Homo sapiens: one gene and its partner. The protein of the gene in region 1 interacts with the protein of each later gene in a pairwise test. Each region holds a gene or a part of one and is shown on either strand. Other genes may lie near its edges.

Region 1 (5,383 bases):
GGGGATAGGTGACTCACACCTCACTAGGCCCTGGGGAGCACCACCAACATTCATGTCACTGTCCCCTTCTGCACACCCTGGCACCTCGGCAGGCCAGGATGCCGGTCTTTGCACGTTGTGCCAGGCAGCTTCGTGTTTCTGTGTTACGTCAGCAGCAAGATCATTCTTAGGGTCTCCTGGTCCACGGGGCTCATGTTTCTCGTTTTAGGTAAATTACTACGAAAGGGAAATTGCGGCACTGAAAAGGAACTTTGAGAAGGAGAGGAAGGACATGGAGCAGGCTCGCAGGCGCGAGGTCAGCGTGCTGGAGGGTCAGAAGGCCGACCTGGAGGAGCTCCACGAGAAGTCTCAGGAGGTCATCTGGGGCCTGCAGGAGCAGCTGCAGGACACAGCCCGCGGCCCCGAGCCTGAGCAGATGGGCCTGGCACCCTGCTGCACCCAGGCACTGTGTGGCCTGGCCCTGCGGCATCACAGCCACCTGCAGCAGATCAGGTCCAGCCAGCTTCTTTTGAGATTTCAAGTCTGGGGTTTCTTGCCAAGAACCAAAATTTGAAATTAGACTTAGGAAACAACTCAGAATTGCTGTGCCTCCCGACTGGGTGGTTTTCCTCTGGGCAGATGGGTGAGTGCCAAAAGAACAGGTCCTGGCATGAGGATTCTGGCTCTGAATTTAAAATATACATTGGATCATGGGCCATGAAGCTGTTCACTGTGTAGAAACAGCCCAGTGTTCTGTACCCTCTGCCTCAGCCGTGCCCGGCAGCAACATTGCCTCCATCGCTCAGAGACACCCGCTTCTCCAGGGCCAGGCAGGGTAGCATGTGGGGAGATGGAGAAAGGCCTGAAGCCCTGAACAATGGGAAAGATGGCCAGCTGGGGTTAGTGAGGTTCCCAAAAAGGCTCAAGTGTGCAAGCGAGAGAGAAGGCTTACAGAAAGCCTGTGCTGGTGTTTTATGTGTTCTGGTGTGAGGTACATGTGAAGTGACCACGTCTGTTCTTGTTGGGGGCATCTGAGGTAGGAGAGGAAGTGCCTGGTCATCGCAGACAGGCTGCTGCTCAGCTGGCACCCACTGTCCTGTGGAGAGCATTGGCCCCGGCTTAGAAGAGGACGGGCCCTCCCACCACACTGGCCAGGCCACCCCCAGCCTGACAGAAAGTCATCTTTCCGGCCGGATGCGGTGGCTCACACCTGTAATCAGCACTTTGGGAGGCCAAGGCGGGTAAATCACTTGAGCTCAGGAGTTCGAGACCAGCCTGGCCAACATGGTGAAACCCTGTCTCTACTAAAAACACAAAAAATTAGCTGAGCATGGTAGCAGGCGCCTGTAATCCCAGCTACTCGGGAAGCTGAGGCAGGAGAATCACTTGAATTCAGGAGGCGGAGGTTGCAGTGAGCCGAGATCTCGCCATTGCACTCCAGCCTGAGCCACAAAGTGAGACTCGTCTAAAAAAAAAAAAAAGTGAGACTCGTCTCAAAAAAAAAAAAAAGTCGTCTGTCCATCCTGTGCCTCCCCAGGCTTTCAGCTATTTCCCCTTAAAGCCAAGAGCGTGTGGTAAGAGATTGGGTCAGAGTCCCTGCAGACCCCAGTGGGAACAGAGGGGCAGGCACAAGCAGCCCCTCTCCTCTCAGCATCCAGGCCCTTGTGCACCTGGCCCCCACCCGGAGCTGTCTCTAGCAGCCTGCTCCTGGGGAGCTGCTGTCCCCGCTCTGCAGGGCTCCCGATCTGCCAATGCTTGGAGGTGGAGGCCCTCCAACCACTTCCTTGCTCCCCTTGCCCTGGCCAGGCATGGACCACATACCCCTTCTGGTGCTGTGGTCTTGCCAGCTCTCACTTCACTTCCACTGGACTCTCCTGCGGGCCACCAGAGGTCCCAAGGCCCAGCAGCTTCAGGGAATTAGGGGACAGTTTTGGCTCTGGGTCTCCAGCGCTATCGTGTAGAACCCACTGCAGTGTGGGCCACGTCGTATGTCTGCCCTGTCCAGTTGGGAGCCTTGAGGGCTTGGAACGTGGCCTGCACGGCCGAGGGGCTGCAACCAGGTCCTGCATGGTGGCGGCCATCTTCCATGTGAACACTCCACATGGAAAGGGTTCGTGCTTGGGCTTCCATGTGCAGAACCTCGCTCCGTGGGGCGGATCCTCGTCTGGACTCTGAAGTAGGGCCCAGGGTATAGGTTGAAGCCAGGGCTGAGGGAGGCGAGGAGGGATAAAGAAAGCCAACCACAGAGAGGAGGTCGCAGCCGTTGCAACAGCTGGGCAGACTTCAAACCCGAGAGAGGGGCTGGGGGCGGCAGGGCTGTGGTGTGTGACGGTTCTACTTCCACAGGAGAGAGGCTGAGGCGGAGCTGAGTGGAGAGCTGTCGGGGCTGGGAGCCCTGCCCGCTCGCAGAGACCTGACCTTGGAGCTGGAGGAGCCGCCGCAGGGACCCCTGCCACGCGGGAGCCAGAGGTCGGAGCAGCTGGAGCTGGAGAGGGCACTGAAGCTGCAGCCCTGTGCGAGCGAGAAGCGCGCCCAGATGTGCGTATCGTTGGCCCTCGAGGAGGAGGAGTTGGAGCTTGCCCGCGGGAAGCGAGTGGACGGGCCCTCCCTGGAAGCAGAGATGCAGGCCCTGCCGAAAGATGGGCTGGTGGCAGGAAGTGGCCAGGAGGGCACACGTGGCCTCCTACCACTGCGTCCGGGCTGTGGGGAGCGGCCACTGGCCTGGCTGGCCCCAGGTGATGGCAGAGAGTCTGAGGAGGCGGCAGGAGCCGGGCCTCGCCGCAGGCAAGCCCAGGACACAGAAGCTACGCAGAGCCCGGCCCCCGCCCCTGCCCCGGCATCCCACGGCCCCTCAGAGAGGTGGTCACGCATGCAGCCCTGTGGAGTGGATGGGGATATTGTCCCAAAGGAGCCAGAGCCTTTCGGCGCGAGCGCAGCGGGGCTGGAGCAGCCTGGAGCCCGGGAGCTGCCTCTGCTGGGAACAGAGAGAGACGCCTCGCAAACCCAGCCACGGATGTGGGAGCCACCCCTGAGGCCGGCCGCTTCGTGCAGGGGACAGGCTGAGAGGCTACAGGCCATTCAGGAAGAGCGAGCACGAAGCTGGAGCAGGGGCACCCAGGAGCAGGCCTCGGAGCAGCAGGCCCGGGCCGAGGGCGCCCTGGAGCCTGGGTGTCACAAGCACAGTGTGGAGGTTGCCAGGAGAGGGTCCTTGCCATCCCACCTCCAGCTCGCAGACCCGCAGGGTTCCTGGCAGGAGCAGCTTGCTGCCCCAGAAGAGGGGGAGACCAAAATAGCGCTGGAGAGAGAGAAGGATGACATGGAAACCAAACTTCTACATCTGGAAGACGTCGTCCGGGCTCTGGAGAAACATGTAGATTTGAGAGAGAACGACAGGTTTGCCTTCTACTCATTCTTAAAACTAAACACTTCAAACTAAAAATGCAGAACTAACCCACTGACCCCTGTTGCTAATGGTGCTATGTGGCCCTTCCTGCCGACAAGCTCGCAGCCCCTGATGGGGGCTGTGTAGCCCTTCAGCCTGAGTAGGGGTTGTGAGCCCAGCCCCGTCCCGGAATGCCACGGTCATCTGGTGCTCTACCACTGGGCAGAGGGAGGGCAGGACTGCCTTTCGGGGTCCTGAACCCACCTTCCGGGTTCAAGATATTCTTGTGCATCAGCCTCCCAAGTAGCTGGGATTACAGGCACCTGCCACCACGCCTGACTAATTTTTGTATTTTTAGTAGAGACGGGGTTTCACCATGTTAGCCAGGCTGTCCTCAAAGGTGATCTGCCCGCCTTGGCCTCACAAAGTGCTGGGATTACAGGCGTGAGCCACTGCGCCCGGCCCTCGCTTCCAAAGATTTTTCATTGTTGTTCCCAGAAGAGGCTGTATACCCATTAAACAATAACTTTTGCTAGTATTTTGTTGAGGATTTTAGCATCAATTTTTGCATCATAAGGGATTGGTCTGCAGTTTTCTTTTCTGGACTGTAGTGTCCTTGTCTGGCTTTGGTATCAAGTAATGCCTCATAGAATGAGTTTGGAAGTGTTCCCTTCTCTTCAATTCTTGGAAGAGTTTGAGAAGAGGTGGTGGAAGTTCTTTTTTAAGTGGTAGAATTCACCAGTGAAGCCATCAGCTCCTGGGCTTTGTTAGGAGGTTTTTTTGTTTTTTGTTTTTTGTTTTTTTTGAGACAGAGTCTCGCTGTGTGGCCCAGGCTGGAGTGCAGTGGTGCTGTCTGGGCTCACTGCAACCTCTGCCTCCCAGGTTCAAGCGATTCTCCTGCCTCAGCCTCCTGAGTAGCTGGGATTACAGGCGTGCACCACCAGGAATCAGGAATTTAAAACCTCGTAACAACTAGGGCACGGTGGTTCATGCCTGTAATCTCAGCACTTTGGGAGGCCAAGGTGGGTGGATCACCTGAGGTCAGGAGTTCAAGACCAGCCTGGCCAGCGTGGTGAAACCCCATCTCTACTAAAAATACAAAAATTAGTGTGGTGGCGTGCGCCTGTAATCCCAGCTACTCGGGAGGCTAAGGCAGGAGAATCGCTTGAACCCAGGAGGTGGAAGTTGCAGTGAGTTTTGAGATCGCGCCACTGCACTTCAGCCTGGGCAACAAGAGCGAAACTCTGTCTCCAAAAAAAAAAAATACAAAAATTAGCCGGGCATGGTGGCATGCGCTTGTAGTCCCAGCTACTTGGGAGGCTGAGGCAGGAGAATCGCTTGAACCTGAGAGGCAGAGGTTTCAGTGAGCCGAGATCACACCACTCACTGCACTCCAGCCTGGGTGACAGAGCAAGATTCCATCTCAAAAAAAAAAAAAGTTCCTTTAGTGAAACTCTGTTTAGAGTAAATTTCCTGTTTTTGCTTATCTGAAAAGTATCTTAAATGTTCCTTCATTTTTGTAAGACAGTATTCTTAGGAACGCACATCTAGCCATTAAATGGCCGCCTCTCCACCCTTGGAATGTCTGCTGTCCGTGTCAGAGACCCGGTTGCTGACACTGCATGGTTGGCCCTTGGTCCGTCTGTTCTTCCTTCGTGTGCATTTCCACGGACTTGGTGGCTTAACAAGGCACAAAAGTGCGATGTTTTAGTTTTAGAGGTTGGAAGAGGAAAGGGTCTCCTTGGGCTAGGAATGAGGTGCTGGCAGGGCTGCAGGGCCATCCAGAGGCCCCGAGGGGAGCTCCCTGCCTCACCTTCTCCAGTGGCCTTGACTTGAGGCGTCCTTCCATCCTGGAAGCCAGCCCTGGATGGCCGAGTCCTCCTCATGTCACCTTACTCCAACACTGACTCTTCTGCCTCCACTTTCTACCTCTAAGGACACTTGTGATTACGTTGGGTTCCTCTGGAGAATCCAGAATAATCTACAGTCAGAGAACGAGCAGCCTTCATTCCCCCTGCTGTG
Region 2 (4,685 bases), on another chromosome or scaffold:
TGCTAGGACAGGTAAATGTAGTCAGTTATCCATTAGTTCAACTTACCGTTCATATCTTTCTGTCATAAACACTAGATCCAATTCCCATTTCAAAAAAGTTGAACCTACCTTTCTCATGGCTATCAATCAGTAAAACTTTTTTGCCTGCAATTGTGTCAAGCATCAAAAACTTTCATATAAATATTTGAATTAAAAATCTAGTTGCTATTAGGGCACTCTAGGGCCAAATATCGTCCAAGATATCAGACTCACCCCTCCCAATGAAGAAACGCAGACGGCATCATGGCCCAAACTTCTGACATTCATGAGCCCCAGGAGATGGGAAATACAAGCGTCTTTAGAAACACTAAAGGGCTCGTGTACATCCTTTTGTACCTTGGGATAAGTACTCCCTGCACACACAACCTCAAGGTATTCACATTTATACTTTGCCAGCCATCAGCCTCTCTCTCCTGCACACACACATGCATGTGCACAAATGTGGTAACAGAGACAGGAGCTTTTGCTCATATTTTTTTTTTAATGTATCACAATGAGCAGGAAACATACTTGATGAAATATTTTCAAAGGAGTATATTCAATTACCATCTACAATCAACTTAACTATGACAACAAAGTTTTTGTGACAAATTTTTTTTTCAGTTTGAAAGTTCCATGTGGTTCTGTTTGTTAGTCTCCATGTATTTTGGTACAGTTCGAGATCAGCATTGTTACAGTAACAAAAAAGCTAACAAGACTACATTATAGAAAAACACCAAGAACATCATTTTTGGTTTCACTTGCTCTATTTTTTTTGTTGTTTTTTGTTTTTTTTTCTTTTTGTACATTGCAAAGGCTGTTCATATACCTCTTCACCTCAGGGTCACGTTCATTTATGCTTTCTTTCCTACCCAAACTTGCCCCCCTCCCCCCTGAAGAAAGTAAACAAACAAAAAACTAGTCAAAGCTTTGTTTCACAGTGGGCAGTATCTCAGCGCCAACAAACAACTCAATTTATGCTTCTATTTAAAATGTTTTAATTTATTATTTAAAAAAAATATATGTCCATGAACATCAAGTGCACTGGCTTGGGTCACTGCCTCTCTCTCCTGCAACTTCCTGCCATGCCTGATAAACTCAGGTTTAAACACATGCCGTCTGTTTTACTTTATTTTCAATTGTGTAAAACTTTGGCCACATTCATCTCTTTAAATAGCTTGTAATTAAAAAAAAAATTCCTAGATGTATTAAATTTTTCCTTGTGTAGATATGTGGTTTTTGGAAGGATGGAGGAAAGATGGATGAAATAACTCCCATTCTGTGGGTCAGACTGGTGTCTAGCACCAACCCACACTATAGGGAGAAAACCAAAAAACGAGTGTCAATGGAGGTGAAGAACTAATTTAAAAAGCAAGTGGAAATATATCCTACCCAGCTACCTACAATGCAGCAGACAGGAATAAATTCCCCAAGTGAGATAAAGCTAAACAAACAGTTGAGCATTGTAGTGAATTCATGCTTTGTAAATAGTACTGGTCATAGCCACGATGGCTGTCAGCCCACAAACATCTAACTCATGTTTGACCTCTAATGTTCACCATCACTGACTGCTTTGCTACTTCTGGGTTAGTGCTGAGAATTATTCTTACTTTTTTCAATGAACATATATGTGGGCGGTTTAGTTGCAGAGGAAAGCATTAAGGGTGCAACCCACTCCAGGTTGAAACAATCACATAACCCCTCTGAGAACACTAGGTGGGTGGAAGTGTGCTCAGCCAATCTATTCAACCACCTTATTGTCGCCAAACACCCACAGCTCAAGGCATGGCATAACAAAACACTGACAGTCACTCTGCCTCACAGAGGGAGGATGGCATAGTAGCTCCATGAAAAAAAAAAACAAAAACAAAAACAAAAACCCAAACCATCAGGGAGGGGGCAGCAAAATTATAAAGAAAAGAACTTAAAAGTTGAGGGGGGAGGGAAAAGGATAGAAATTGCACTATTACCAAGCAATATCATTTTTAAAAACAACGTTTTCAGAGAAGACCTAGCAGAATTTGACAGGTAAAGCTAGTGTTACATTGTTAACTGATATCACATAGAGAACCAAAAACAAAAACAATTTTTTTTCTATATGGTACAGACACAGAGTAACATACAACAGTTAAATGGCAAAAAATATATATATATATATTTCATAGAGTTACAAACAAGATAAAATAATGGAAAACAAAAAACTGTACAACTTTAAAATTTAAAAATGTTCATCTCAAACACAGGAAGAAATACAAGATTTCTTGTTAAAAGGAAATAGCTTGTTAAAACAGTAAATGTTTTGCGTACTTGCTTTTGACACCTTATGCTACAACTGGATACTGGTATGAATAGTTAGATGGTATTCTTTCTTTAGTATTTCTACTTAAAAAAAACAATTAAAAAAGGAATTTGCACTGTGCATCAGCCTAGTTAGAAATATGTACAACATTTCAGGATCTACTATTTCATTAAACTAAAAACAAATTCATAAAAATAAAATAGTCCCGGCTAAAAAAGAAAAAAAGAAAAAAAATCCATTTTCAGATCTTGGAATGCTCCAGTCTTTTGCAAAGTCGATGAGTGGCTTCAGCACTGGGGAAAGAAGCCCGAAAGGTGACCAATGGAACCTGTATTCACAGTCTTCAAAGTTCCCTTTTGAAACATAAGGAAGAAAACGAAGGGAAGAAGGATTTCACACTTTGGGGGCAAGGGGAGATGGTTTCTGTTGATGTTTAGCTATGAAAGTGAAACAGCAAAGCATCTATTTATTTGTCTCCAAAATCTATGTTTTAGCAGCACAAAGTTTTCAAAGTTCAGACCATTTATTTATTTTTCTTTTTACATGAGAAAGGGTGTGTGTTAACAGGAATATGGATATTAACAGAAACAAGTGCCTCACATACAGTTCCTTTTTTGCTTTCTGTACACTGCTATCTGCTGCTTTGTTGGCTGCGCTCTGGATCACTCGCTGCTCAGACTGCCTAACACAAGGACAAAACTTTGAAGTAAAAAATGTGTCTTTTGGTATATGGAATTGTCATTAACATTTGCCTCTCTGCTTGCAGAAGAAGCACATAACAACCTGGGAATCTTTTGTTTTTCTCTTTCTTTTATTAAACTAAGTCTTGTTTGTTTAAATCAGAAACAAATTCTCAAGTAACAAGAACCCTTTCCCTTTTTTCTGCATCAGCAGTGAAAGGGTGTGTCTTTGGATTTTATTTAAAGCATGAAATTTTTTTTTCTGAGAGAGGAAAGAAAAAACAAACACAAAACCAAAAACCAAATCCCTAACCAAAAACTTTTTTTAGAAAAGAAAAGTACACAGCCAATTACACAAATGGAAACAAATCCTTTAGTATAGAAAAAAAAAGAATATTTGAAGCTCCTACCAAACAAGGAGGAAAAGAAGGGGTACAAAGAAAAAAAAGCCAAAAGAAGGATAAATAAAAAATAAATGCACAAAGCTAACAGACACAGGTAACTAGAATTATATGCCTTTAAAAAGTTTCAACTCCCCAACCAAAAATAATCTGTGAGGATCCTAATGACCCCTAGAATCCCTTGAAATTCTTTCTTTAGTTTTATAAAATAATTCTGCAGCTCCCTCTAAGAAATGAAGGCAGCTACCTTAAGTGGGAGATTATAGGACGGGAGGTGGGAGAAGGAAAGAGAAAGTGGAATTAAGGGACAAGAAAGAGAAAGTGGAATTAAGGGACAAGGGGAGAAAAGCTTAGGCGAATCAACGGATTGCAATCTATCATCTGCTAGGAATGAACAAGACAACATCAAATGAGGAGCTGTCAGCTGGACCATACAAAAAGCTAAATGTACACAAAAGGTTTTTTTTTTTTTTTCCTTTTAAATCTACCATACTGCTTCAGTTCATTTCCAATGCAACAATCTACTCAACACCAAAAATGGTCATATCTATCATAAATACAGAAAGTCAGTTTTTAAAACTTATTTTTTTTAAGCTACAAGTCCTCAACACTCTTTGTGTGTGTGGGTTATTATTTTTTTTTTTTTTTGAAAGTGGGAGTGCTTAACTTTTCCCCTTGAAATTGGCTTCAGCAGAAAAGCTATCCTTAAAAATCCCCAGAAAGCTAAAGCAGTTCACATTGTTTTTCTTGAATACTTTCTGCCCATTTTTAAGTTAACAAAACAAAAAATCTTTTCTGGAACAAAAAAAAAAAAAAAAACTGAAAAAACAATAATATATAAAACAATGATTCTGAAAACAAAGTGTGAGCGATTGACCTGAGAATAAAAAGACATTACATTTCTTTTTTTCTTTTAGCAAGCCATTGGTATCTGAATGCTAAGATAGCAAGAAATTTAAAACTGTAACAAGGTGGACTGCTTTCCCATACAGTGCATGCCGGGCTCCTCTGTGCTATCAGCGTGGGGCGTTTATTGAAAAGGGGCAAATATACAAGGGGTTTAAGCTCCAAAGACATTAGGGAGGCCCTGCGGACTTCTGTTTCCCAGACCAATAGTACCTTCAAAAGGACACAATGTAACAGGGTTAGGGCTTTTTTTTTTTTTTTAATATTAAAAGAAAAGAAAAAGACAAGAATGTAAAATCACCGGCATAGATAGGTATATGGGAAAACAACCCACGCTTTTTCTTTTTTTTCTTTTTTTTTTTTTTTTTGTTTTTTGGTTAG

What was found.
Region 2: the proteins of NINL (region 1) and ZFHX3 interact in a two-hybrid assay, tested with the Homo sapiens proteins (one large-scale study listed by BioGRID).

The regions. Positions count from the first base shown.
Region 1 is NC_000020.11:25,474,032-25,479,414, reverse strand, and holds part of NINL (ninein-like protein), read left to right. Parts: intron 1-208; coding exon 209-492; intron 493-1,019; coding exon of another isoform or gene 1,020-1,220; intron 1,221-2,325; coding exon 2,326-3,372; intron 3,373-5,383. UniProt on the Homo sapiens protein: Involved in the microtubule organization in interphase cells. Overexpression induces the fragmentation of the Golgi, and causes lysosomes to disperse toward the cell periphery; it also interferes with mitotic spindle assembly.
Region 2 is NC_000016.10:72,782,385-72,787,069, forward strand, and holds the end of ZFHX3 (zinc finger homeobox protein 3), read right to left. Parts: 3' UTR 501-4,685; downstream 1-500.